Homo sapiens: one gene and its partners. The protein of the gene in region 4 purifies or fractionates together with the protein of the main gene of each other region. This does not show direct contact. Each region holds a gene or a part of one and is shown on either strand. Other genes may lie near its edges.

Region 1 (6,156 bases), on a different chromosome or scaffold from region 4:
TTGTTAGAGTAGAGCTTTTGTAAGAGTCTAGGAGTGTGGGAGCTAAATGATGATACACATGGACACAAAAAATAGATCAACAGACACCCAGGCCTACTTGAGGGTTGAGGGTGGGAAGAGGGAGACGATGAAAAAGAACCTATTGGGTATTAAGTTCATCACTGAGTGATGAAATAATCTGTACATCAAGACCCAGTGATATGCAATTTACCTATATAACTTGTACATGTACCCCCAAATTTAAAATGAAAGTTAAAACAAAGTATAGGAATGGAATTAATTCCTCAAGATTTGGCTTTAATTTTATTTGATAATTTATCAAATGGTTGTTTTTCTTTTCTCACTATGGCGTTGCTTTATAAACTATGTTCAGTATGTCTGAATGAAAGGGTGTGTGTGTGTGTGAAAGAGAGGGAGAGAGGAAGGGAAGAGAGGACGTAATAATGTGAATTTGAGTTCATGAAAATTTTTCAATAAAATAATTTAATGTCAGGAGAATTAAGCCTAATAGTCTCCTAAATCATCCATCTCTTGAGCTTCAGAGCAGTCCTCTGAATTAATGCCTACATGTTTGTAAAGGGTGTTCAGACTGAAGCCAAGATTCTACCTCTAAAGAGATGCAATCTCAAATTTATCTGAAGACTGTACCTCTGCTCTCCATAAATTGACACCATGGCCCACTTAATGAGGTTAAAAAAAAGCTAATTCTGAATGAAAATCTGAGCCCAGTGGAGGAAATATTAATGAACAAGGTGCAGACTGAAATATAAATTTTTCTGTAATAATTATGCATATACTTTAGCAAAGTTCTGTCTATGTTGACTTTATTGCTTTTTGGTAAGAAATACAACTTTTTAAAGTGAACTAAACTATCCTATTTCCAAACTATTTTGTGTGTGTGCGGTTTGTTTCTATGGGTTCTGGTTTTCTTGGAGCATTTTTATTTCATTTTAATTAATTAATTCTGAGAGCTGCTGAGTTGTGTTTACTGAGAGATTGTGTATCTGCGAGAGAAGTCTGTAGCAAGTAGCTAGACTGTGCTTGACCTAGGAACATATACAGTAGATTGCTAAAATGTCTCACTTGGGGAATTTTAGACTAAACAGTAGAGCATGTATAAAAATACTCTAGTCAAGTGCTGCTTTTGAAACAAATGATAAAACCACACTCCCATAGATGAGTGTCATGATTTTCATGGAGGAAGTTAATATTCATCCTCTAAGTATACCCAGACTAGGGCCATTCTGATATAAAACATTAGGACTTAAGAAAGATTAATAGACTGGAGTAAAGGAAATGGACCTCTGTCTCTCTCGCTGTCTCTTTTTTGAGGACTTGTGTGTGTGTGTGTGTGTGTGTGTGTGTGTGTGTTGTGGTCAGTGGGGCTGGAATAAAAGTAGAATAGACCTGCACCTGCTGTGGCATCCATTCACAGAGTAGAAGCAAGCTCACAATAGTGAAGATGTCAGTAAGCTTGAATAGTTTTTCAGGAACTTTGAATGCTGATTTAGATTTGAAACTGAGGCTCTGACCATAACCAAATTTGCACTATTTATTGCTTCTTGAAACTTATTTGCCTGGTATGCCTGGGCTTTTGATGGTCTTAGTATAGCTTGCAGCCTTGTCCCTGCAGGGTATTATGGGTAATAGAAAGAAAAGTCTGCGTTACACTCTAGTCACACTAAGTAACTACCATTGGAAAAGCAACCCCTGCCTTGAAGCCAGGATGATGGTATCTGCAGCAGTTGCCAACACAAGAGAAGGATCCATAGTTCATCATTTAAAAAAGAAAACAAAATAGAAAAAGGAAAACTATTTCTGAGCATAAGAAGTTGTAGGGTAAGTCTTTAAGAAGGTGACAATTTCTGCCAATCAGGATTTCAAAGCTCTTGCTTTGACAATTTTGGTCTTTCAGAATACTATAAATATAACCTATATTATAATTTCATAAAGTCTGTGCATTTTCTTTGACCCAGGATATTTGCAAAAGACATATTCAAACTTCCGCAGAACACTTTATTTCACATATACATGCCTCTTATATCAGGGATGTGAAACAGGGTCTTGAAAACTGTCTAAATCTAAAACAATGCTAATGCAGGTTTAAATTTAATAAAATAAAATCCAAAATCTAACAGCCAAGTCAAATCTGCATGTTTTAACATTTAAAATATTTTAAAGACGTCTTTTCCCAGGATTCAACATGTGAAATCTTTTCTCAGGGATACACGTGTGCCTAGATCCTCATTGCTTTAGTTTTTTACAGAGGAATGAATATAAAAAGAAAATACTTAAATTTTATCCCTCTTACCTCTATAATCATACATAGGCATAATTTTTTAACCTAGGCTCCAGATAGCCATAGAAGAACCAAACACTTTCTGCGTGTGTGAGAATAATCAGAGTGAGATTTTTTCACAAGTACCTGATGAGGGTTGAGACAGGTAGAAAAAGTGAGAGATCTCTATTTATTTAGCAATAATAGAGAAAGCATTTAAGAGAATAAAGCAATGGAAATAAGAAATTTGTAAATTTCCTTCTGATAACTAGAAATAGAGGATCCAGTTTCTTTTGGTTAACCTAAATTTTATTTCATTTTATTGTTTTATTTTATTTTATTTTATTTTATTTTGTGTAATCGTAGTTTCAGAGTGTTAGAGCTGAAAGGAAGAAGTAGGAGAAACATGCAAAGTAAAAGTATAACACTTTCCTTACTAAACCGACATGGGTTTCCAGGTAGGGGCAGGATTCAGGATGACTGACAGGGCCCTTAGGGAACACTGAGACCCTACGCTGACCTCATAAATGCTTGCTACCTTTGCTGTTTTAATTACATCTTTTAATAGCAGGAAGCAGAACTCTGCACTTCAAAAGTTTTTCCTCACCTGAGGAGTTAATTTAGTACAAGGGGAAAAAGTACAGGGGGATGGGAGAAAGGCGATCACGTTGGGAAGCTATAGAGAAAGAAGAGTAAATTTTAGTAAAGGAGGTTTAAACAAACAAAATATAAAGAGAAATAGGAACTTGAATCAAGGAAATGATTTTAAAACGCAGTATTCTTAGTGGACTAGAGGAAAAAAATAATCTGAGCCAAGTAGAAGACCTTTTCCCCTCCTACCCCTACTTTCTAAGTCACAGAGGCTTTTTGTTCCCCCAGACACTCTTGCAGATTAGTCCAGGCAGAAACAGTTAGATGTCCCCAGTTAACCTCCTATTTGACACCACTGATTACCCCATTGATAGTCACACTTTGGGTTGTAAGTGACTTTTTATTTATTTGTATTTTTGACTGCATTAAGAGGTCTCTAGTTTTTTATCTCTTGTTTCCCAAAACCTAATAAGTAACTAATGCACAGAGCACATTGATTTGTATTTATTCTATTTTTAGACATAATTTATTAGCATGCATGAGCAAATTAAGAAAAACAACAACAAATGAATGCATATATATGTATATGTATGTGTGTATATATACACACATATATATATATATTTTTTCTTTTCTTACCAGAAGGTTTTAATCCAAATAAGGAGAAGATATGCTTAGAACCGAGGTAGAGTTTTCATCCATTCTGTCCTGTAAGTATTTTGCATATTCTGGAGACGCAGGAAGAGATCCATCTACATATCCCAAAGCTGAATTATGGTAGACAAAACTCTTCCACTTTTAGTGCATCAACTTCTTATTTGTGTAATAAGAAAATTGGGAAAACGATCTTCAATATGCTTACCAAGCTGTGATTCCAAATATTACGTAAATACACTTGCAAAGGAGGATGTTTTTAGTAGCAATTTGTACTGATGGTATGGGGCCAAGAGATATATCTTAGAGGGAGGGCTGAGGGTTTGAAGTCCAACTCCTAAGCCAGTGCCAGAAGAGCCAAGGACAGGTACGGCTGTCATCACTTAGACCTCACCCTGTGGAGCCACACCCTAGGGTTGGCCAATCTACTCCCAGGAGCAGGGAGGGCAGGAGCCAGGGCTGGGCATAAAAGTCAGGGCAGAGCCATCTATTGCTTACATTTGCTTCTGACACAACTGTGTTCACTAGCAACCTCAAACAGACACCATGGTGCATCTGACTCCTGAGGAGAAGTCTGCCGTTACTGCCCTGTGGGGCAAGGTGAACGTGGATGAAGTTGGTGGTGAGGCCCTGGGCAGGTTGGTATCAAGGTTACAAGACAGGTTTAAGGAGACCAATAGAAACTGGGCATGTGGAGACAGAGAAGACTCTTGGGTTTCTGATAGGCACTGACTCTCTCTGCCTATTGGTCTATTTTCCCACCCTTAGGCTGCTGGTGGTCTACCCTTGGACCCAGAGGTTCTTTGAGTCCTTTGGGGATCTGTCCACTCCTGATGCTGTTATGGGCAACCCTAAGGTGAAGGCTCATGGCAAGAAAGTGCTCGGTGCCTTTAGTGATGGCCTGGCTCACCTGGACAACCTCAAGGGCACCTTTGCCACACTGAGTGAGCTGCACTGTGACAAGCTGCACGTGGATCCTGAGAACTTCAGGGTGAGTCTATGGGACGCTTGATGTTTTCTTTCCCCTTCTTTTCTATGGTTAAGTTCATGTCATAGGAAGGGGATAAGTAACAGGGTACAGTTTAGAATGGGAAACAGACGAATGATTGCATCAGTGTGGAAGTCTCAGGATCGTTTTAGTTTCTTTTATTTGCTGTTCATAACAATTGTTTTCTTTTGTTTAATTCTTGCTTTCTTTTTTTTTCTTCTCCGCAATTTTTACTATTATACTTAATGCCTTAACATTGTGTATAACAAAAGGAAATATCTCTGAGATACATTAAGTAACTTAAAAAAAAACTTTACACAGTCTGCCTAGTACATTACTATTTGGAATATATGTGTGCTTATTTGCATATTCATAATCTCCCTACTTTATTTTCTTTTATTTTTAATTGATACATAATCATTATACATATTTATGGGTTAAAGTGTAATGTTTTAATATGTGTACACATATTGACCAAATCAGGGTAATTTTGCATTTGTAATTTTAAAAAATGCTTTCTTCTTTTAATATACTTTTTTGTTTATCTTATTTCTAATACTTTCCCTAATCTCTTTCTTTCAGGGCAATAATGATACAATGTATCATGCCTCTTTGCACCATTCTAAAGAATAACAGTGATAATTTCTGGGTTAAGGCAATAGCAATATCTCTGCATATAAATATTTCTGCATATAAATTGTAACTGATGTAAGAGGTTTCATATTGCTAATAGCAGCTACAATCCAGCTACCATTCTGCTTTTATTTTATGGTTGGGATAAGGCTGGATTATTCTGAGTCCAAGCTAGGCCCTTTTGCTAATCATGTTCATACCTCTTATCTTCCTCCCACAGCTCCTGGGCAACGTGCTGGTCTGTGTGCTGGCCCATCACTTTGGCAAAGAATTCACCCCACCAGTGCAGGCTGCCTATCAGAAAGTGGTGGCTGGTGTGGCTAATGCCCTGGCCCACAAGTATCACTAAGCTCGCTTTCTTGCTGTCCAATTTCTATTAAAGGTTCCTTTGTTCCCTAAGTCCAACTACTAAACTGGGGGATATTATGAAGGGCCTTGAGCATCTGGATTCTGCCTAATAAAAAACATTTATTTTCATTGCAATGATGTATTTAAATTATTTCTGAATATTTTACTAAAAAGGGAATGTGGGAGGTCAGTGCATTTAAAACATAAAGAAATGAAGAGCTAGTTCAAACCTTGGGAAAATACACTATATCTTAAACTCCATGAAAGAAGGTGAGGCTGCAAACAGCTAATGCACATTGGCAACAGCCCCTGATGCATATGCCTTATTCATCCCTCAGAAAAGGATTCAAGTAGAGGCTTGATTTGGAGGTTAAAGTTTTGCTATGCTGTATTTTACATTACTTATTGTTTTAGCTGTCCTCATGAATGTCTTTTCACTACCCATTTGCTTATCCTGCATCTCTCAGCCTTGACTCCACTCAGTTCTCTTGCTTAGAGATACCACCTTTCCCCTGAAGTGTTCCTTCCATGTTTTACGGCGAGATGGTTTCTCCTCGCCTGGCCACTCAGCCTTAGTTGTCTCTGTTGTCTTATAGAGGTCTACTTGAAGAAGGAAAAACAGGGGTCATGGTTTGACTGTCCTGTGAGCCCTTCTTCCCTGCCT
Region 2 (7,029 bases), on a different chromosome or scaffold from region 4:
GAAAGAGCCTGGCTGGGAGACATTCATACAGTTTGTTACAGAGATGAGGAGAGCTAAAAAGGAATATGGAGGAGGGTATCAACTGATGAGATGGATTGGTTGGTGGGAAAACCTACTAATCAACAAACAATCTGGCACTGGAAATAGGCAGTAACATAAAGGAGCAAGTGTAGATTTAGTTTCTTGGGCAGTTTGATGGTGAAGGGGAGAAAGGAAATAGTGTGGTGGCTTAAGGCAAAAGCTGATTCAGGAAAGGGTTCCTTTTTATTGTTTCTATTTTTAGGACGAGGAGATTTTAGATTTGAGCATGTTTGTAGGACAAGGAAGAGAGCAAGTAGAGGAGAAATTGAAGACGAGAGAGTAGAGAAGCCAGAGCAGCACAGGCTCACTGTTAGGATGGGAAAAGGACACTGCTTACCCTGAGAAAATGGTAGCTGATATGGGAGAATCTCTACAGATTAAACAGTGCATGTGTGGCAAGGGTGGGAGGGGAATTGAGAAAATTCAAGCCTGATCAACTTGTCTTTGAAGTAGGAAATTAGGCCATTTACCAAAATCCAGTAGCTTAAGTGGATGAGGGAGTTGAAGAATTTGAGAAAGAATTGGAAACCACATGGAATAAAATGGGGGGCTGCAAAAGGACAAGAAAAAGGACTCCTGGGCAGAGTTCAGCTCTACTCAGGAAAGAAATGATACTTATAAAAATGAAAAGGTTTTCAACAGTTTCTCCCCATGAGCCCTTCAGATTTATGATCCAAAGTTGACAGAGGCATGATATGTTTCCTAACATATGGAGAGAAGAGGTTGAAGACAAAAGGATGTTGCCATTTCTACGATGAAATGGATATTCATGCCCTCCTACCAAATTTGGGGGCGAAATGTCATGAATTTGACACCCAACAGTAGAGCAGGTGAAAAGCCAGAACTTTGGCAGCATTTTCTCTGTACAAATCTTTGTATGTTCTGTTCCAAACTAACAGTTGCAGCAGTCTTTTAATTGAAGCACTAAAACAAGATTTTTGGGAACAGTGTGACTCAGATCACATTTATTTTTAGAGGCGGAATTCAAAAAATAATAATGATGATAATCATATAGTCAGGTAGAATAGGGGATGGGAACTTTAGTAAATTGGTGAAGGACACTGAATCCCATATTGGATTTTATTTATTATTTATTTTTAAATATCTTTTAAATTTTTGCATTTTCTGCTTAAATAGATTGAGTTTTAATGAGCTCTAACAGGCTATGGAGGCACCTTAGCATATAAGTGAAGTTGATTAAATCAAAAGCATGCTTGGGAAAGATGGTTTTGACTCCTGTAAGAAATAATGAATGAGGGCTGGGCGCGGTGGCTCACACCTAGAATCCCAGCACTTTGAGAAGCCCAGGTGGGTAGATCACAAGGTCAGGAGTTCAAGACCAGCCTGACCAACATGGTGAAACCCTGTCTCTACTAAAAACACAAAAATTAGCTGGGTATTGTGGTGCGTGCCTGTAATCCCAGCTACTTGGGAGGCTGAGGCAGGAGAATTGCTTGAATCCGGGAGGTGGAGGTTGCAATGAGCTGAGATCACACCACTGCACTCCAGTCTGGGCCACAGTGAGACTCTGTCTCAAAAAAAAAAAAAAAAGAAATAATGAATGAATGAATGGAGAAGAGCCTAGATATGAGTAAGATGAGAGGTTGTGTTTGTGAATGGAAGGAGTGAAATGAACATTTATAATGTCGAAGACTAATTTCTTACCTAATAGATATACTAACTCAGGTAATTATATTAATTATTTGTTGCTCTGTGTATCTAATCATGCAACCTGCTAGATAGGGCATGTGCCCACATTGGTTCTAGCAGAGTTATCCATAGGGTTCCTAATGAGCTTTCTAGCCTATTTGAGGATTAAACAGGGATGTTAAATGTTGGAAAGAAACTTTTTTTTGAGACAGAGTCTCCCTCTGTCATCCAGGCTGGAGTGCAGTGGCGCAATCTGGGCTCACTGCAACCTCTGCCTCCTGGGTTCAAACAATTCTCCTGCCTCAGCCTCTTGAGTAGCTGGGACTTTGCATGCATGCCACCAGGCCCGGCTAATTTTTGTATTTTTAGTAGAGACAAGGTTTCACCATGATGGCCAGGCTGGCTTCGTACTCCCGACCTCAAGTATCCTCCCGCCTTGGCCTCCCAAAGTGCTGGGATTACAGGCATGCGCCTGGCCAACTTTCTTGTGTCAAAGAGAACCTATAACAGATACTAGAAATAATGAATATATAGTCAGATTACTCAAGTGAGTTTATCTTCATTTTAATATTCCCTGAGTCAAAAAGTTCGGTTTTAGTGCAATGGAAAGGATAGTAATTGATGAGAGTTGTGTAGGTGACAAGTAGAAGAGCTAGGATTTGGACCCAGGCAGTCTGACACTAGTGCTGGTGTCCTTAACCACTAAGCAATATGCCACTGCTATACAGTAAAGCCCTTTGTAAATATCTGGAGTTTATTTCTTGTTTTTATAATACTATGTAATGATGATTTATGATACCCTACTCTAGGAATTATTGCTCAGTACCCTGTGTGTGGTTTTGTTTTTATTTTTTTGTAAAGAAGTGAATGAGAGGCCAGATGCGGTGGCTCATGCCTGTTATCCCAGCACTTTGGGAGGCCGACACAGGCAGATTATCAGAGGTCAGGAGTTCGACGCCAGCCTGGCCAATATGGTGAAACCCCGTCTCTAATAAAAATATAAAAATTAGCCAGGTGTGGTGGCGTACGCCTGTAATCCCAGCTACTCCGGAGGCGGAGGCAGGAGAATTGCTGGAACCTGGGAGGCAGAGGCTGCAGTGACCCGAGATTGTGCCACTGCACTCCAGCCTGGGCGACAAAAAATAAAAATAAAAATAAAAAAGTGAATTGAGAGTCCCTTGTTGTAGTCATAAGCTATTTGGTTACCTCATAGGCTAAGGACCCTTTTGCTGCACTCTCACAAGGTACCTAAAGGAATGTAATCAATGTAAACAATGAATGGATTTGGAAGTGCTCTGGATCTGAAAGCCCTAAATGATCAATTATCTCAGTAGTCTGGTGATAGAAACCTAGTTTAGTGTGGTCCCAAGGTCTGCAGTCTCGCTCCTACCCCAAGCACCCTACTCTCCAACTGTACATTACTCCCTAACAGTTGCCTCTGCCTTTGCTTATCCTGTTCCCTCAATTGAGGCAACTTCTCTGCCTGGTGATAACTAACTTACCCTTCAGGACCAGCTCAGATGTCATTCTGTGAGAGGACGAAGCTAAGCAAGAAAAGGAAGAGAGAAAGGCCCAGAAAGACCTTGGGTTCTCACAGTTGTTAATGAGTGGGGAAATGCACAATAACAATAAAGACAGAAGTGGGGCGATGAGCAGAGCCATATGAAGAATATGGCAGTCTCTAAATATAAGAGAAAAATGGCCATACATTTTGTCTGTTCTCTAGAAGTTACAGGTAAAGCACCACTAAAAAATAGAAAGCCAAGTGGGTTGGGAATCAAGAAAACTGCATTCAGCTCCCATGTGTGAGGCCTTGGGTCAGCCACATAACTCCTCCTGGCTTAAGGGAGTTAGACTTGATTTATAAAATCTCGTGTAACTCAAACCTTCCTTCGTGCTCGCAGCATGAAGCTATTTATTGATTTCTAAACAAGAATAGAACAAAAATTATTTAATGAAGAGAATGATCAGAGCTTTGGTTTGCTTCTTTCAATGTGGGCTTGTTTTCAAATTTCAATTAAATCAAAACCACCTGCAAAAGAACAGATCTACTGAATCAACCATGTCTTCCTACACAGTGTACTGAATTTTTCAGTACAGCAACAAACTTTTAGATCTGACATTGTTGTTACACTCAGCTAAGCCTAAATCATAGCCAGAGGTGCAGATTCAGAGTCTAAGCTAGGTAAGGACTTATGCCCAGTAACTAGCAATTATTTAACTGGGAGTAAGGAGTAAGCAGATCTGATTACCAGAGAATTTAAGTATTTTGTCAAAAACTATTTTATAAATTCTTTCCAGTCAAGTCAGTTCACAATCCAGTAAGCTGTGATCAGAGTCATGGCATTGGTCATAAACGTTCTTAGCATGCAAGGTAAAACAAATGCTAATGATGCCCCTACACTCTGCTTCCCGCAGGAGATGCTGAACATAAGCCATATATCTGTGGGGATGCAGATTCTGCCTCCACTGTTCTGGATGGGACCGAAGACTACCTCATTCTGGCCTGTGATGGCTTCTATGACACCGTGAACCCTGATGAGGCAGTGAAAGTTGTGTCCGACCACCTGAAAGAGAATAATGGAGACAGCAGCATGGTTGCCCACAAATTAGTGGCATCAGCTCGTGATGCTGGGTCAAGTGATAACATCACGGTTATTGTGGTATTCCTGAGGGACATGAACAAAGCTGTAAATGTTAGTGAGGAATCAGATTGGACAGAGAACTCTTTTCAAGGAGGGCAAGAAGATGGTGGGGATGATAAGGAGAATCATGGAGAGTGCAAACGCCCTTGGCCTCAGCACCAGTGCTCAGCACCAGCCGACCTAGGCTATGATGGGCGTGTGGATTCATTCACTGATAGAACTAGCCTGAGCCCAGGGTCCCAAATCAACGTGCTGGAAGACCCAGGCTACCTAGATCTCACACAAATAGAAGCAAGCAAACCTCACAGTGCCCAGTTTTTGCTACCAGTTGAGATGTTTGGTCCTGGTGCACCAAAGAAAGCAAATCTTATTAATGAGTTAATGATGGAGAAAAAATCAGTTCAGTCATCATTGCCTGAATGGAGTGGTGCTGGAGAGTTTCCCACTGCTTTCAATTTGGGTTCAACAGGGGAGCAGATATACAGAATGCAGAGCTTGTCTCCTGTCTGTTCAGGGTTGGAAAATGAACAGTTCAAATCCCCGGGAAACAGAGTTTCTAGATTGTCTCATTTACGCCACCACTACTCAAAGAAGTGGCACAGATTCAGGTTTAATCCAAAGTTTTATTCATTTCTCTCTGCTCAAGAGCCTTCCCACAAAATAGGCACTAGCCTGTCCTCACTTACTGGAAGTGGGAAGAGAAATAGGATAAGAAGTTCTCTGCCATGGAGGCAAAATAGTTGGAAAGGGTACAGTGAAAACATGAGGAAGCTCAGAAAGACTCATGATATTCCATGCCCAGATCTTCCTTGGAGCTATAAAATAGAATAATTTTTCTTTCAAGTAGGTTAGCTAGCTCTCCCCCAATAAAAATACCACTATCAGAGTAGAAACAAGGTAGACATTTCTAAAACATATGTGCTTCATTATGAATCCATGGATGGCTCAATTCTTAAATGTAAATAGATCTCTAGGAAACTCAAAGTACAGTGTTTTCAATCTAAAAAGAAGTATTGGCAGTTTCACTTGCAAAATTACACAGCTGGTCCCTGTGATGTGTCTCGACACCAATACACAACCCCCTTCCCACCATCCTTCATGTCACTAGATACACAACCCCCTTCCCACCATCCCTTCAGTCACTAGTGGAAGCTTTCAAGTTAGTTATTTCAGTCAGGATATACAGTGTTGAAATCTCAATGCAGTTGAAATCTGGTCTGATGTGCCTAATTTATCTGTGGAAAATTTAATGCTGAATTACATTTGGTTGGGAAATGTCCCTCAAAATCCTGGGCACTATGAAGGAACCCCCTGCCCCCTCACCTTTTTGGGTAGGTAAAAGACTAAAAGCCATATGGATTTTAACTGATAACAATGAAAGTGGTAAATCAGTGTAAAAGTGTCATATTCTCAGACTTGTGAGGCGGTTTATAGTCAGAAAGATTTACGGATTTTTTTCCTGTAACATAAAAGATTGTGAACTTTTTTTAATTAAAAAATATTTCCTAGGGCTGTAGTTATTTGGGAGTTTCATAACCTGTTATGGTGCTTTTGGTGGAAATTTTTATTATTTAGCATTTTAGGAGACCGCTGTCAACTGGTTTTAATCTATGATGCTAATGTGTTTTCCACTGTACCCTCATCTCAGGAATAAAACTGCTTTAACGGAGATGATGTCAGGTACAAATACACTATAGAGTCAAAATACCATTTACAAAGAAAATCAAAAGCATTTCTATATTTTGTCTTTTTTTAGTTCAGACAGCAAAGGCATGTACTACTATAAAATACAAAGTGATTTTAGAGAATGAAAAATGCTACTTTTATCTTCTCTAAAATTATTTCCCCCAAGGTAGTGAAGTAATTGGAATGAAGGAGGCTGAAAGTATTGTCTAAAGTGAGCCCAGAGGCCACTGAGAATGCAGATTACTGACAGCCAGGTCTGTTTAGTTGTAATTGGAAGACACATGAGTGTCCTGCTTACATGTAGCTTCAGACTGCAGAGACAGGACGTGTGCTTTTCATTTCAATATTTAGTTATATTTGATATTTTGAAACTGTCTGCTTTTTGCTATTTCTGCAGTTTCAAGTTAGTTAGAAGCATGTTGTCAACTAAAGACAACAAACTATCAGATTCATTCATTCAGTGAAGCAGCCTCTGATTCTCTAAGAGTCACGAATGTCTTAGTGTTACCCTCCCCTAGTCAACAGCAGACCAGCCTGGCCAATGCCTATGGGTGGCCCCTCTGGAGTGCTCACTAACAAGGGTGAGTGCTCTCGCTAAGAAGTGTCCCCCGCCTAATCATGTGTTTATAGGATAGTACACGTTCCCCAGGCCCATAACAGAGGACTAAAATCTCTGAATTTTAAAGACACAGATGACTGGCATATTTTGGATACCAGTATAGCTATATCAAATAGACAAAAACAGCTTCACTTTAGCAATGATCAGATTGTTAATCTACAGATTTTATTTTTTAAAATTTGGATGTAAGTAGAGACTTTCAGTATTTGTTTTCTCTTGATTTTGAAGTCATTTCTTCTTCTCACGTCTGTGACAAATGGTTGAAAAGGAGTCAACATGGCCCCAACTATAGTGCCGGAACCTTTTCATCATTCTGAGGCTTTGCCCCACACATGGTCCTCACTCATA
Region 3 (7,029 bases), on a different chromosome or scaffold from region 4:
TGCAAACTAACTGAAAACCTAATTTAGGAGTATACTTTTGTAACAGATTGCTGAGGCTCAGCCAATCACATCATCAGCTTCAGTGGGTTCCAGGCAGCCAACTATTCAAACCATTTTCAAATAAGGCAAAGGCAGAGCTGTAACCAATTAGTTGTCTTTGTATCTCATTTCTGTTTTCTGACCATAAATGCTTTCAGACTATGTTGCAGCTCTGGAATTCTCTGAACCTGTCCTGGTTCTGAGGGCAGCCCAATTCTAGAATTGCAAATAAAAGTCAATTACAATCTGCAAAACTATATTTGCTTTAATTTTGTCTTTTAACACCTTGTTTTCTTAATTTTTATTATTTTATTTTATAGAGATAGGGTCTTGCTATGTTGCCCAGGCTGGTCTGGAACTCCTGGCCTCAGGCGATCCTCCTACTTTGGCTTCCCAAATTACTGGGATTACAGTCAGGAGCCACAGTTCCTGGCATGTTAACACCTTGTTCTTTAAAGGACACACAGGAGGCGATCCTTCTCCTGCCTGTAGATATTGTCACGTCTGGATTGATGCTCAAAATGGCTGCAGCCAGGCTTTCATAAGGGGAACAAGCTTGAAGACAAAACCAACATAAAAGAACAGAGCAGAAGGATGCAAAGGCTCTACGCCATTTGACAATGAGCCACTAAATTAACAAACCTCAGACTTCCTGTTATCAGAGATAATAAGTGTCCCTGCCAGGCATGGTGGCTCATGACTGTAATCCCTAGCACTTTGGGAGGTCAAGGCGGGTAGATCACCTGAGCCCAGGAGTTCAAGACCAGCCTGGGCAACGTACAGAGACCCCGTCTCTACAAAAAATACAAAACTTAGATGGGTGTGGTGGCACACACCTGTAGTCCCAGCTACTTGGGAGACTGAAGTGGGAGGATCACTTGAGCTTGGGAGGTAGAGGGTACAGTGAGCCGTGATTGTGCCACTGCACTCCAGAGCAAGACTCTGTCTTGAAACATAAAAGAAATAAATATAAATAAGTGTCCCTAGTATTTACACTTCTTTAAGCCTAGGTTTTGTTACTTGCAGCCTTAATGATACATGGACCTTTGCCTGAGTCCTTGGGAATTCAAATGCCTGATTTTTAATTAAGGCCATCAAGTGCTAGCACATAGTAGGATCTCAACATTAATTTCATCTGATGTCAGACGAAGGGCATACAATAGTCCCCTGTAAAAAGATATGTAAGAAGACACTCTGGGGACTCAATGATGTGGGTGTGAACATATATATATATTTTTTAGATGGAGTCTCACTCTGTTGCCCAGGCTAGAGTACAGTGGCACAATCTCGGCTCACTGCAACCTCCATCTCCCAGGTTCAAGCGATTCTCATGCCTCAGCCTCCCAAGTAGCTGGGATTACAGATGCGAGCCATCACACCCAGCTAATTTTTGTATTTTTAGTAGAGACAGGGTTTCACTATATAGGCCAGGCTGGTCTTGAACTCCTGACCTTGTGATCCGCCCACTTTGGCCTCCCAAAGTGCTGGGATTACAGGCGTGAGCCACTGCGCCTGGCTCATATGTGTATATATATGTGTGTATATATATGTGTGTATATATATATATGTGTGTATATATATGTATATATATGTGTGTATATGTGTGTGTGTGTGTGTGTATATATATATATATATGTATATGTATATGTATATTTTTTTCCTAAGAACTAGAGAGTGCCCTCAGGTCTCAAACCACCCCCGCAGGGGAAATTGAAAGTTGACGCTTTATGGAAGGAACCCCTGAGATAGAGCCAGTCCTTTGCTTTTTTAAAATATATTTTTAAAACATCATTCATCTATTTAATCATTACTGAGCTTCCATAATGTATAAAGAGAAAAAGTGACAAAAAGTGGGAGCCTGTAGGCAGACACGTGAACAGAAAGTACAAGTGAATAACTAATACAGGGAAGTTACTGTAAGCATCTATCTAGATCACAGCTGAGGCATAAAAAAGGATGTCAGGGTGGGTGTGCACCAGACACAGTGGGAGCTGGGCAGAGACAGACACATAAGCAAAGGGAGCAAAAGGCACTTGGACAGGAGAGCCAGCCTAGCCCAAGTCCTACCAGGGGACTGCACAGTGTGGTGTGGCCGGAACAGAGTGCAGTGGCAGCAGGCAGGCAAGACAAAGTCCTGGTCTAGGAGGAGCCAAAGGATGAAGCTGGCTGTGAGGGGCACAGCCTGCAGGAATGTCACGTGGTGGTCTCAAGTAGCAGTGAATGCAACACCTTCCCATGGCCACAGAAACTCCTTGGGTGACAGCTGTGGTGCCTTCAGCTGGAGTTACAGCCCTAGCAGGAATAGAACTGTATGGACTGAAAATTAAATAAAATGTGGGGATTTTTTTTTTCTTTTTGAAACAGAGTCTCTGTTGCCCAGGCTGGAGTGCAGTGGCATGATCGCAGGTCATTGCAACCTCTGCCTCCTGGGCTCAAGTGATCCTCCCCACTCAGCCTCTCGAGGAGCTGGGATTACAGACATGCGCCACGACGCCTGGCTAATTTTTGCATTTTTTTTTTTTTTTTGAGACGGAGTCTCACTCTGTCGCTCAGGCTGGAGTGCAGTGGCGCCATCTCAGCTCCCTGCAACCTCCGCCTCCCAGGTTCAAGCGATTCTGCCTCAGCCTCCTGAGTAGCTGGGATTACAGGAAATGGGCCACCATGCCTGGCTAATTTTTGTATTTTTAGTACAGACGGGGTTTCACCATGTTGGTCAGGCTGGTCTGGAACTCCTGACCTTAGGTGATCCACCCACCTCAGCCTCCCAAAGTGCTGGGATTACAGGCGTGAGCCACCACACCCAGCCAATGTGGGAATTAAAAAAAAAAGAGTCCTAGGAATCAAGTTGTGGGTTCCAGATCCCACCTCCATTCTGCCACTAGGACTGTCAGTCATCCTTTTTGAGCCTCAGGTACCTTCTCTGTTAAGTAACAGGATGGGCCAGATGATTTTTTTTTTCCTTGAGACAGGGTCTTGCTCTGTTACCCAGGCTGGGGTGTAGTGGTGCGATCAGGGCTCACTGCAGCCACAACCTCCAAGGTTCAAGCGATTCTCCTGCCTCAGGCTCCCAAGTAGCAGGGACCACAGGTGCACATCACAATGCCTAGCTAATTTAAAAAATTTTTTTGTAGAAACGATGTCTCATCATGTTGCCCAGGCTGATTTTAAACTGTTAAACTCCTGGGCTCAAGTGATCCTCCCGCCTCAGGCTCCCAAAGTGCTACCATTATAGGTGTGAGCCACTGTGCCTGGCCCCAGATGATCTCAAACTGCAGTCCTAGGGTCCTCAGTTAGGTATTAAGTACCTGAACTCACTACATAATGGGAACAGGGCAGAGACGGCAACCAGACTCCACCTTGAATACCAACTCCAACTGACTGGTAGTGGCCCCCTGGAGTGCTATATTGAGAAAAACTTCTAAAAACACTTTGACTTCCACAAAAAAGAGTGCTTGTGCCCGATTGGTCATGTCTGCTGTGGGCTGAAGATGCCCAAATAGTACCTTGAGTGGCAAGAATTTGCAATTTCCAGCTTCATGTATTGCATCTTACTGTGGTTGCAGGAATGTGCCAATCACCCATGGTATAAAGATACTGAAGATTAATTTCTCCTGAGGTCTTCTGTGAAAGCAAGCGCTAGGATTCCCCCAGGCTTAGGCTTACCAACCCTGTCCTGAATCCAACACCCTGGTGCCAGTTTGCCACTCCTTCCCAATCCTCCATGATTCTATCCCTGTTGCATTCATCACCTCTAAATGTCATTACTTTCTGAGTGTAACTCGGACCCTCCTTTCCTGCAGCCAAGACATAACTGATTAATTACACAACAGGCTCTCTAACCAAGAAAGATGACCTTCCTTTAAAAGATGTGGCCAGTAACCAATCCTGATCATTTCTGTACTTTTCCTTTTATTTTCCATTCCCTGGTGTCTTCGTCCCCTCCCAGCCAGGGTCATGGCTCTCAGACGGATGGCCACAGTGCTGGTGAAAGACAGAGGGATTATTTCATACACTAGGGCACTAGCTGTGGTACAGCTGGCAGGAAGAGAGGTGTAATTATATTGCATCTTGGAGCCACCAGCAATGAATTTCTGCATAAAGGACTAGATTTGCCATGTATTATTTACGTCAGCATCAATTTTCCCAGCTGGCTCTATTTACTGTGCAAATTCTCCTCTGTCTGTTTATGGGCAAGGCCATGGTTCAGCACCTCTGGTTATGCTGTACTGTGGAGGGGCCCCACAGGGCACCATGCATATTAAATGAGTGGCTGGATTCACCAGGAGCAGGTCATACCCTCCCTTTCTGTTAAATTATATCCCTGGAACTGCAGCGAGCCCACACGTTCTCACCTAGTCATGGTGATGCAGGCAGGTCTGAAACCAAATCAGCAAGAGGAAAGGAGGAATAAACTGTTCTTTGGGCCTCACTGGGGGAAACTGAAAAACAGCCTTCTAAGGGGAAATCAGGTGGCTCTAGGGCTCGGGGAATTGCCTTTTTATATTTTTAAGAGCAAAACAGAGATGAAGAAGAGTATTTCATTTATAAGCTTATTTCCACCCAGTAACTCAGAGACAGAGCTAAGGAAGAGTGGGCCCCCATCTAACAAATGGAAAGGCAGAGACAAAAGAAAAAAAAGGCAGCAGCAGCAAAGGCAAGTTAGAGGCTTTCCCGGCTTGGCCACTGCGCTAGGAGGGAGCACAGGACACAATGGTGATGCACAGGATTATCCATCCAGTCGCCAGCATGCCTCATCAGAGATGCTCCCAGCCAGGGTGAACTTGGTTTCCACCAGAAACATACACGTTAGAAATAAGGGAAGGAAACGTGGCACCAGTATGAATTTCTGGGTCCTCGCAATGCAGCATCCTCTTTCGCCTGTGGTTTATATGCTTACAGAGAGTGAGGCCAAGGAACCCAAGATGTCTCTTCTGGCCAGCCTGAGAACGTCTGTAGTCACCAGTGCCAGGTGGCAGTAAACAGCAGGCGTTACTGGGAAGAAAAGTTGGGAGGGGTCCCCAATGCTTCCCTGTTTCCCAAACAACAGCACAGGTCATGTCTGATCACCCTGTAATGTGGCACTCTGCTCTGAGGTCCCCCAGGTCCCAATGTCTACCATCTCCTGGAAACCTGTTGGCTGGAAGAAGAAGTAAGGAGTCAGTGGAGTTAAGCAACCCAAGTGGGTAGCTTCTTTAGTTGCAAGGTTTCAGCCTCTAAAGAGTTCTTCTCGAAGACATCTGTGGGTATGGAAACCACCCTCCAGGGCCCAAGATTACTGGCATCTTCCTGGGGCTGGCTCACCTGTCGGGAAGATTTGGCCAGACACGCCATGCGCCGGCCGCCTGATGCTCCTGCTCCCTCGATGGTGTCCAGGAGAATCCGAGTGCTGGGCACAAAGCTCCAGGAGCGTCCGAGGGCAGGTTTGAGCCTCCCGCTGTCCCTGTCTCGAGTTATGTGGTTGGTCACCTGCAGCAGAAACAGACTTACAGATCCATAATGCTAGTATAGAGGACATCGATTACTACCGCTTCATTTTACGGAGAGGAAAACAGAGGCCTAGCACAGAGAAATAACTTCCCCAAGGTTACAAAACCTAATGGCAGGTCTGGAACTAGAACCTGGGCCTCCTGACTTGTGCCCCGCTCTTTCCACTAAATCTCGATGCCTCAGGTTTGACCCGAACCAGAAGGCGATGGGGCACATGTCACCATGCTTTCCAGGCTGGTCTCAAACTCTTGAGCTCATGCAGTCCGCCAGCCTCAGCCTCCCAAAGTGCTGGGATTACAAGTGTGGGCCACCACGCCCAGACACTCAGCCTTTAAAAGGAAGGAAAGTCTGACACATGCTACAAGGTGGATGAACCTTCTGGACATTATGCTAAGTGAAATACTCCAGTCACAAAAAGTAAATACCATATGATTCCATGTATATGAGGTTCCTAGAGTAGTCAAAAAGCATAGATACAGAAAGTAGAATGGTGGTTGTCAGGGGCTGGGGAAGGGGAAAATGAGTTATTTTTAATGGGTACAGAGTTTCAGTTTTACAAGGTGAAGAGTTATAGAGATGGATGGTGGTGATGGTTGTACAGCGTTATGAATGTATTTAACACCACCGAACTGTATACCTTAAAGTGGTTAAGATAGTAAATTTTATGTTACATGTATTTTACCACAATAAAAGAAACTGGAAAAAATATATAGCTGCTAAAAATTACATTTCTAAAAAATCTATTTTAAAACATAGGAAATGGACTCAGATGGTATTTTTTATGTTGTTGTTTTGGTTTGTTTGTTTTTGAGATGAGGTTTTGCTCTGTTGCCCAGGCTGGAGTGCAGTGGCATGATCACAGCTCACTGCAGCCTCGATCTCCCAGGCTCAAGCAATTCTCCTGCCACCAAGGCCACCTAGTTTTTGTATTTTTTGTAGAGGTGGGGTTTTGCCATGTTGCCCAGGCTAGTCTCGAACTCCTGGGCTCAAGTGATCCACCAGCCTTGGCTTCTCAAAGTGCTGGGATTACACGCATAAACCAGCGCACCTGGCCTATTTTTTTTTATTTTTTCATGAGGTTAGTTTAGTTAGAAAGCTGGTTAAGTGTGGGCTCACACCTGTAATACCAACACTTTGGGAGGCTGAGGCGGGTGGATTGCTTGAGCCTGGAAGGTCGAGCTGCAGTGAGCTGTGATTGTGCCCCTGCACTCCAGCCTGGGAAACAGAGCGAAACCCTATCTCAAAAGAAAAAAAAAAGAAAGAAAGAAAGTTGGCTAAAAGTATAAGTAAATATGCAGAAAAAGTATTGTATGGAGATATGTAAAAATATTAATATGGTTTCTGTGGATGTGGAGATTGATGACAAATTTGAATCATATTTATTTTCTATCCTTTCTATGAGAAGCATGCAGACTTTAAAAAAACTACCTCATAAGCAGAAAAAGTTACTTCAATAGCAAAAAGATCCATTTATATGAAGCTCTGGAAAAGGCCAAACTATTG
Region 4 (7,401 bases):
TGCCTCAACTAACAAGGGGCAGTCAACACTTGAATTCGGTCAGTCTGAATCCTGAGCTGGAACTATTATCCTCCATGCCATGCTGTCTCCTCTAAATACACTATGTTATGCTACATTGGTACAGACATCTAATTGTAGGCCATAGGTTTAAAAAAAAAAACCTATAATAAGAAAACTTAAAATTTTATCTACTAAGAACATTCTTCCTGAAAAACTGGAACAAAAAGAGCCCCATTGCAATTTGTTTTTAAAAAGCTTTGTCAAAATTATAGTACATAGCTGGAGAATCCCTGGTGGTAGATAACCTTATTTACCTAATGCCCTATATCTTGATGATGAACACAGGCAATATGGCACAGTTAGGTACAGAGGCTTCGGATGTTAAAAATTCGCATGTTGTTAAGTATCTCCATTTTTGGAGCAATCTTTCTATTACTTGCTTTTGGCCAAATCAAGTGGATTCAGGCTTGGAGATAGATACGAGTTGTGCTTCCACACATTCTTTTCTTTTTTCAGGCAACAATGAAGAAAACATTTGCTCTCCAGACAAGAAAAAGGAGACTTACAGAGTGATTTAAATCACCAGTCTGAGTAAATTCTTCCAGGTTCTGCCATTTCAGATAGCAAGTTCTCAGCATTTAATCTCCTGAATTTCCACTCAAAAGTTGATGGTATTGTATTATGATCACCACCACTTACCTGGGTATGTCATATACACGGTCTGCGATCCGACTTCCAACCTGAAGGATTACACGAGGCGTAGGTTAACGGGGAAGTAACACTCTTTTTCCAGTATTCAACAATCCACAAGTTACTTATGTTTTAAAATAAGTACTTCCCTTTATCCCCTTTTCAATTTCACCACAGGAACTTTCTTCTCAAACCACCAGGAAACAAAATTGAGGCAAATTATTTCAGAAGTCAATTTCATGAAATCCAGACTAAATATTCTTAAAAATATACATATACACACACACACACACACATATATATATGTGGCCTTTACATTCCATGTGACATAAGATCACAAGGATGAAAAGCAAAAGGAACACAACAGGCACATTACTGTCCACGGATATTAGCATGAGGTACACAAAGTGAAAAATTAGTTAGTTGGGGTTTATTGTAGATGAGTATGTAAGTGGTCACTTAAGAAAAACTCTATTATTTGATGACTAACAAATTTTGTGGAACTCATAAATGAACAACTTTTCTGAGTGACATTCGCAAGTTAGAAAAAGCCAAATCTGAGGAAAGTGCACCTCCCCTGCTCCAATCCCATCCCAATTTAAGAGTCATAAGGTAAGCACCACCTTTTGCTGGCCTAGCTTCATCTGGTAGCAATAAAGACGTGGGAGTCTAGTATTCCCCACATTCCACTCATTCCCTCATAAACACCCCAGAGTTGCTCTTAGGACTTAAAAGTTCCAAACACAGATGTACCTGCTTTTTGAGAGAAGGGCAAGGGAGAAGGGAGCGTAGATGTTTTTCCCAGGAGTCCACCTTGTACGTCATTCCTAATATGAACACCCTATGTTTATTATAAAAAGAACTCTCATATACTTTATCTTATTTGTTCTAGTCTCACAAATTGGCGAGGCCTCAATCAAGTTGTAGTCCAGGTGCTTTCTTTGGAGGGAAAGGGCTATGAGCGCACATCTTCTAAGTACACGACATCAGCAGTGTAGTACGTGCACCATGCCTTACAAGTGAGACACAAAAAATTTATTGGTAGTAAACTTCCTATAATAGACATTACCAGCCTAAGACTTCCTGAGAAAGACACCCTGTCAATCATCTGATCAGACCTGTACTTGCACAGAGCTCTGCTCAAGCTATGAGTTCAATAACTGTTTGTTGCATTATACTTGACTCCAACTTTGTTCCACTCCTGAATAAAAATTTACTGAGGCCTGAACTTGAGAATGCGTGTCCTGAAAGTAGAAACCCTCAGTCTCTGGCTCACCTGGGCAGGGAGAAAGGTTTCTCAAACGAGCCAAGACAAATCAGAAATCTTAATTTGATCTTCCTAAAACATAAGTCAGATCACTCCACTGATTAAAACAAGAGCTTCACATTCCCCTAGAGCAGTGCTGACCAAAAATCATGAGAGCCACATATGTAATTTCAAATTTTCTAGTAGCCACATAAGAAAAAAAGTAAAAACGAGAGAAATTTTAATTGAAAAATTTAAATTTATATTTAATATATTTCATGTGACCCAATATATCAAAAATAATCACTGCAACATGTAATCAATATAAAAGCTCTTAATGAGCTATTTTACATCCTTTTTTCATACTAAGTCACTATACTCGTGTGTATTTTACAACACATCTCAATTGGACTAGTCACCTTTCAAGTGTTCAACAGCCACATGTGTGGCCGGCAGTTACCATACTGGCTGGACAGTGCAGATACAGAAGAAAACCCCAAGTCCCTATCCTGCAAGGCCCTGATGATTTGGGTCCTCCTAACCTTCTCTCCCACTCTCTCCCTCTCCGGAGCTTCACTGGAGGCCTCTATAAGGTCCTTTCAGCCTCAAGGACGTTGCCGAAATGAATGCATGAATGAATGAAAGCATGTTACAAATATCCGAGGCCAGGCCTTGCGTGATTACAGTAGAGGCCGAAAGAGGCAGGGCTGCTGGTCAAGGTCAGACGGCTAGGTGGGGTGAGCTCGGGGCCTAGCCGGAACTAGCGGAGAGGAAAACAAGCCTCCGCGTCGCCCGCCCCGCCGCCCCGCCGCCCCGCGGGCTCACCTCCTCCTTCAGGTAGTCAAATTTGGTCGGCTCGGGCTGCCGGGCTGCCCAGTTCTTCTGTTTCCTTTTCAAATCCCGGTCGAAAATATTCAGGGTTCTGGGCGAGGTGCTACCGCGGGGAGAGACACCAGAGGTGACTTCCCTACGGCCAAGATTCTCCGCTGGGACCCTCGCCGCCCAAGGTCGCCGACATAAGCGCCAGAGCCCTGCCGGCCGCAGCATCTCCAGCTGCGACCCCAATTGCCGGCGCTTTTTGTGCGCATGCGCCAGCGCGGCTTTTGTGTCTACTCCAAAGATCTTCTCGAGGGAACGTGCAAGTAGTTTGGCCTAGTTCGCTTGCCATTACGGCGGAGCGTCACGCGGAGGATTGTGGGTGTGAGCCCCACGTGAGGCTTGGTAGGACTGCGGACGGTGAGTGGGGATGGACTGGAGTTGAAGAGCTCGAGATGAAGGGCTTGAGGGCGTGTGTGTGTGTGGCGCGGGGAAAAAACTAGTCTCTAACAGGATCTCTTTCGGATCTGCGAGGGGTTTTGCCCCTTCCTCCTGAGCCTTTTTCGGTCTCATTCTTCAGTCTTCATCGATCCTTTTCAGGGTCGCTTCTCGAATCAGTCTGTTAGCTGCCCCCCTGCGGTACAGGAGGTGGAAAGGAGACCCTAGTTCAGGGGCCAGCCCTGTGTTCTCCGAATTAGAGAGCGGGCAGAAGGGGAGGGTGGGCTACGGGGATGCGGGCGCGTGTCGGGAGTGAGGTCCGGTCGCCTTCCCCTCTCTCGGATTATCTGACATATAATGAGTGCTTTCCTTCTAAACATTTACAATACATGCAGTACTTCTCCTGGTTGAGGTGGTACCTACCTCGTAAGATTGCTCAGAGAGTTAAGTGCTGTAATACATCGAAAAATGTGTAAATGCACCAGCGATAGCTTCCTTTTTTTTCCTAGTTAGTGTAATTAAAAGGACTTGATTTTTAAATAAGAAATATTGCCCTTTTAATCATTTTGGGGGGGGGTTGCTTAATAATCAACGACTTTTGGCTCTTTGCAAAATTCCCATCCAGAGATGCTAAACCATTGGAGACTTTTCACAAGGGAACAATATTAATTTATACACACATATGTATATGTTCTAGTATGTTTTGGGGGAATGAGCTCACTTGGGCCTTCATCACTGGTAGAATCAGATATTATAGAAAGAAGTGATATTTATTAACTGGTGTGAGACTTTACCTGGAGACTCAAATTTACTTTTTATTTTTAAACTTTTTATTACTTTTGAAGGATGATCGAATTTAAAAAGGAAACTTTCTTAGCTAAACCTGAGTTGATTTTGGTCTGTTTAGTTAGAATGCTAGTCTTACAGAACTAAAGGCTGTTTGTTGGCAGTAGCCGGAGATAAGGAGTAAGCAGAATGAGACCAGAATGTGAAGAAACAAATGAGGCCAACGGAGGCTAGGGAATCTTTCTTTCTTACTTTTTTTTGGTAGACAGGGTCTCACTCTGTTGCCCCAGCTGGTGTGCTGTAGTGCCGTTAGGCTCACTCTAGCCAAGACCTCCCGGGTGGAAGTGATCCTCTTGCCTTAGCCTCCAAAGTAGCTGGGACTACAGGCGCGCGCCACCATGCCGGGCTCATTTTTGTATTTCTTGTGGGGATTCACCATGTTACCCAGGCTGGTCCTGAACTCCTGGGCTCAAGTGATCCGCCCGCCTTGGCCTCCGAAAGTGCTGGTGAGCCACCGCACTCGGCCTAGGGAATCTTAACTACATTTGCCTTCAATTAGTAACACATACTGGTATACAAATAGAAATTCTAAGTGAGAGCAATGGATGAATAAACATTTGTTCCCCTCCATAAAGCCCTGGGATTCTGCTTTGTCTACCTTAAGTTTATTTCTCTAAATGATCTGTCATGGAAAGAGGATATTTTGGTATGTTTCTGCTTTTTTGCATGTGACCCAGAATACGTTGGAGAGATGAAATTAGACTTGTTACCTCTATTTTATGTACACTTAACTTAGAATATATTAACTTAGAATATATTGTGAATGTGTTTTAAAACATTTAATTATTGTACTAACCATTATTACCATTAAAACATTTGTTTTATTTTTCAGTATTTGTTTTCTTCAAGCATTTGGTCGAGATTAAGAATTAAAAATGTCATCCAAACAAGAAATAATGAGTGACCAGCGGTTTAGACGGGTTGCAAAGGACCCGAGATTTTGGGAAATGCCAGAAAAGGATCGAAAAGTCAAAATTGACAAGAGATTTCGAGCCATGTTTCATGACAAGAAGTTCAAGTTGAACTATGCCGTGGATAAAAGAGGGCGCCCCATTAGCCATAGCACTACAGAGGATTTGAAGCGTTTTTACGACCTTTCAGATTCTGATTCCAATCTCTCTGGTGAAGATAGCAAAGCATTGAGTCAAAAGAAAATAAAGAAGAAAAAAACCCAGACTAAAAAAGAAATCGATTCAAAAAATCTAGTTGAGAAAAAGAAAGAAACCAAGAAGGCTAATCACAAGGGTTCTGAAAATAAAACTGATTTAGATAATTCTATAGGAATTAAAAAAATGAAAACCTCATGTAAATTTAAGATAGATTCAAACATAAGTCCGAAGAAGGATAGCAAAGAATTTACACAAAAAAATAAGAAAGAGAAAAAAAACATTGTTCAACATACTACAGACTCTTCTCTCGAAGAAAAACAAAGGACATTAGACTCAGGCACCTCTGAAATTGTGAAATCTCCCAGAATCGAGTGTTCTAAGACAAGAAGAGAAATGCAATCAGGTAGGTTGGAAAAAATTAGAGATTCTTGGGTGTTACATTATTTATTTTTATACTGATCTTTCAAAAATGTAAACACATTAATAAGTATTTTCATAGTATTATGGAATGGTCAAATGCTTATCTGGAAATACAAAGCTATAAAAGAAATATGCAGTGATTATTAATTTTTGATGTGGTGCTAGAAGACAGACATGAAAATTTGAATCTTGAAGTTAAACAGTGATTTTGATTAGTGGTGAGCCCTAATGAGAACTATATTCTCTAACCAGATAAAGTGTTATATGTCATCACATGATAAGAAGAGATGTGTCTAAAGAGGGTAAGTAGGCCGGACATGGTGGCTCACGCCTGTAATCCCAGCACTTTGGCAGGCCAAGGCGGGCAGATCACTTGAGGTCAGGAGTTCAAGACCAGCCTGGCCAACATGGTGAAACCCCATCTCTACTAAAAATAAAAAAAAATAGCCAGGCATGGTGGCGCACACCTGTAGTCCCAGCTATTCGGGAGGCTGAGGCAGGAGAATTGCTTGAACCTGGGAGGTGGAGGTTGCAATAAGCTGAGATTGCACCACTGCACTCCAGACTGGCTGACAGAGCGAGACTCTGTCTCAAAAGTAAAATAAAATAAATAGGGTAAGTAGGACTCCGTCTCAAAAATAAAATAAGAGGGTAAGTAGAGTTGAGTACTCATTCATTAATTTGTTCAGTTGCTTTGCCACTAGTATGTGGCAGGCAGAATATGAGTAAGGCGTCGTCACCCATCTCAGGGCTGTCGCTAGCTTATATGATGCCTTTATGCAAATTAGAAAAAGGCATGCTCTCTGGACACACAGAGCTCCCAGGGGTCACACTTTGGTGAAGAGATGGCGCCTTTGAAGCAACAGATTTTTTGCCCCTGAGCAGACACAGCCCCCTCCAGAGTGCATGGCTTGGTGAGTGTAGGATGGCCTTGATTTTAGCCCTTCTTGTCCTTTTATAAATGCCCCTGTGCGGATAACAGCCTGCTAAACTTTGTGCAGTGGCCCCTGTCTAAAGCAACATTGTCTAGTAGAAATACATAATTTTGGATTTTCTAGTAACCACATTAAAAAGTAAGATGAAACAGGTAAAATTATTTTAAATAATATATTTTATGTAACCCAATATATCAAAATTATTTCAATATGTAATCAATATAAAAGTCAATGTATATTTTACATCCCATTTTCTACTCATTTCATACTAATACTATTTTCATATTAATGTCAAGTTAGACAAAACGCATTTCAAGTGCTCCGTTACCACATGTGACTACTGGCTACCATATTGGACAATATAGATCTAAAGTAGAAGAAAGTCAGAACCATAATACAAAATGCAATAATAGTAAGTGCCGTAAAAGATGTTTAGCAGAAAGCCATGGAAATCTGGAGGAAGAAGTCACTCAAGATGTGGTAATCAGAAAAATTCATAGGGGACGCACTACTTTGGGGTGTGGAAAAATTTAAGTTTGAGGACCAGAGTGTGCTACATGGAAAGAACTTTTTGAGCAAAGATGTGATTGGGCATGTTCAGAAGAGGTCAGTAGTCCCGTTTGATTAGATAATAAGGTCTTGAAGGGCCAAAATGAGTAGCAGCGAGAAATGATTGTTTGGAACTAGGTGAGAGACAGCTGGCTCTAGTTTGCATTACGTGTTTACTAATTAAAATTTTTTGTCACCTCCAGCAGCAAGCAATTTTGAGTGTTGATGTTGCTGATAGTTGAAGATGTAACTGAAAACCAGTAGTAGTTCACATGAGCCAGACCTGTGATTACAGGATCCAAGGAGGGGTCTTGATAGGCCGAGAGGTCTTGATAGGCCAAGAGGTCTTGAT

Evidence for each region.
Region 1: the proteins of NDUFAF5 (region 4) and HBB purify together in Homo sapiens (affinity purification with mass spectrometry; 3 studies listed by BioGRID and IntAct, with this or other methods). This does not show direct contact.
Region 2: the proteins of NDUFAF5 (region 4) and PPM1E purify together in Homo sapiens (affinity purification with mass spectrometry; 3 studies listed by BioGRID and IntAct, with this or other methods). This does not show direct contact.
Region 3: the proteins of NDUFAF5 (region 4) and RAD51D purify together in Homo sapiens (affinity purification with mass spectrometry; 3 studies listed by BioGRID and IntAct, with this or other methods). This does not show direct contact.

Annotation. Positions count from the first base shown.
Region 1 is NC_000011.10:5,224,935-5,231,090, reverse strand, and holds HBB (hemoglobin subunit beta), read left to right. Parts: upstream 1-4,019; 5' UTR 4,020-4,069; coding exon 4,070-4,161; intron 4,162-4,291; coding exon 4,292-4,514; intron 4,515-5,364; coding exon 5,365-5,493; 3' UTR 5,494-5,627; downstream 5,628-6,156. UniProt on the Homo sapiens protein: Involved in oxygen transport from the lung to the various peripheral tissues. LVV-hemorphin-7 potentiates the activity of bradykinin, causing a decrease in blood pressure.
Region 2 is NC_000017.11:58,975,825-58,982,853, forward strand, and holds part of PPM1E (protein phosphatase 1E), read left to right. Parts: intron 1-4,149; coding exon 4,150-5,207; 3' UTR 5,208-7,029. UniProt on the Homo sapiens protein: Protein phosphatase that inactivates multifunctional CaM kinases such as CAMK4 and CAMK2. Dephosphorylates and inactivates PAK. May play a role in the inhibition of actin fiber stress breakdown and in morphological changes driven by TNK2/CDC42.
Region 3 is NC_000017.11:35,095,861-35,102,889, forward strand, and holds part of RAD51D (DNA repair protein RAD51 homolog 4), read right to left. Parts: intron 5,506-7,029; coding exon 5,341-5,505; intron 5,177-5,340; coding exon 5,093-5,176; 3' UTR 1-5,092. UniProt on the Homo sapiens protein: Involved in the homologous recombination repair (HRR) pathway of double-stranded DNA breaks arising during DNA replication or induced by DNA-damaging agents. Bind to single-stranded DNA (ssDNA) and has DNA-dependent ATPase activity.
Region 4 is NC_000020.11:13,780,651-13,788,051, reverse strand, and holds the start of NDUFAF5 (arginine-hydroxylase NDUFAF5, mitochondrial), read right to left. Parts: upstream 3,025-7,401; 5' UTR 2,984-3,024; coding exon 2,762-2,983; intron 1,703-2,761; exon of another isoform or gene 741-1,702; coding exon 700-740; intron 1-699. Other genes in the region: ESF1 homolog, read left to right, coding at 4,912-5,548. UniProt on the Homo sapiens protein: Arginine hydroxylase that mediates hydroxylation of 'Arg-111' of NDUFS7 and is involved in the assembly of mitochondrial NADH:ubiquinone oxidoreductase complex (complex I, MT-ND1) at early stages. May also have methyltransferase activity.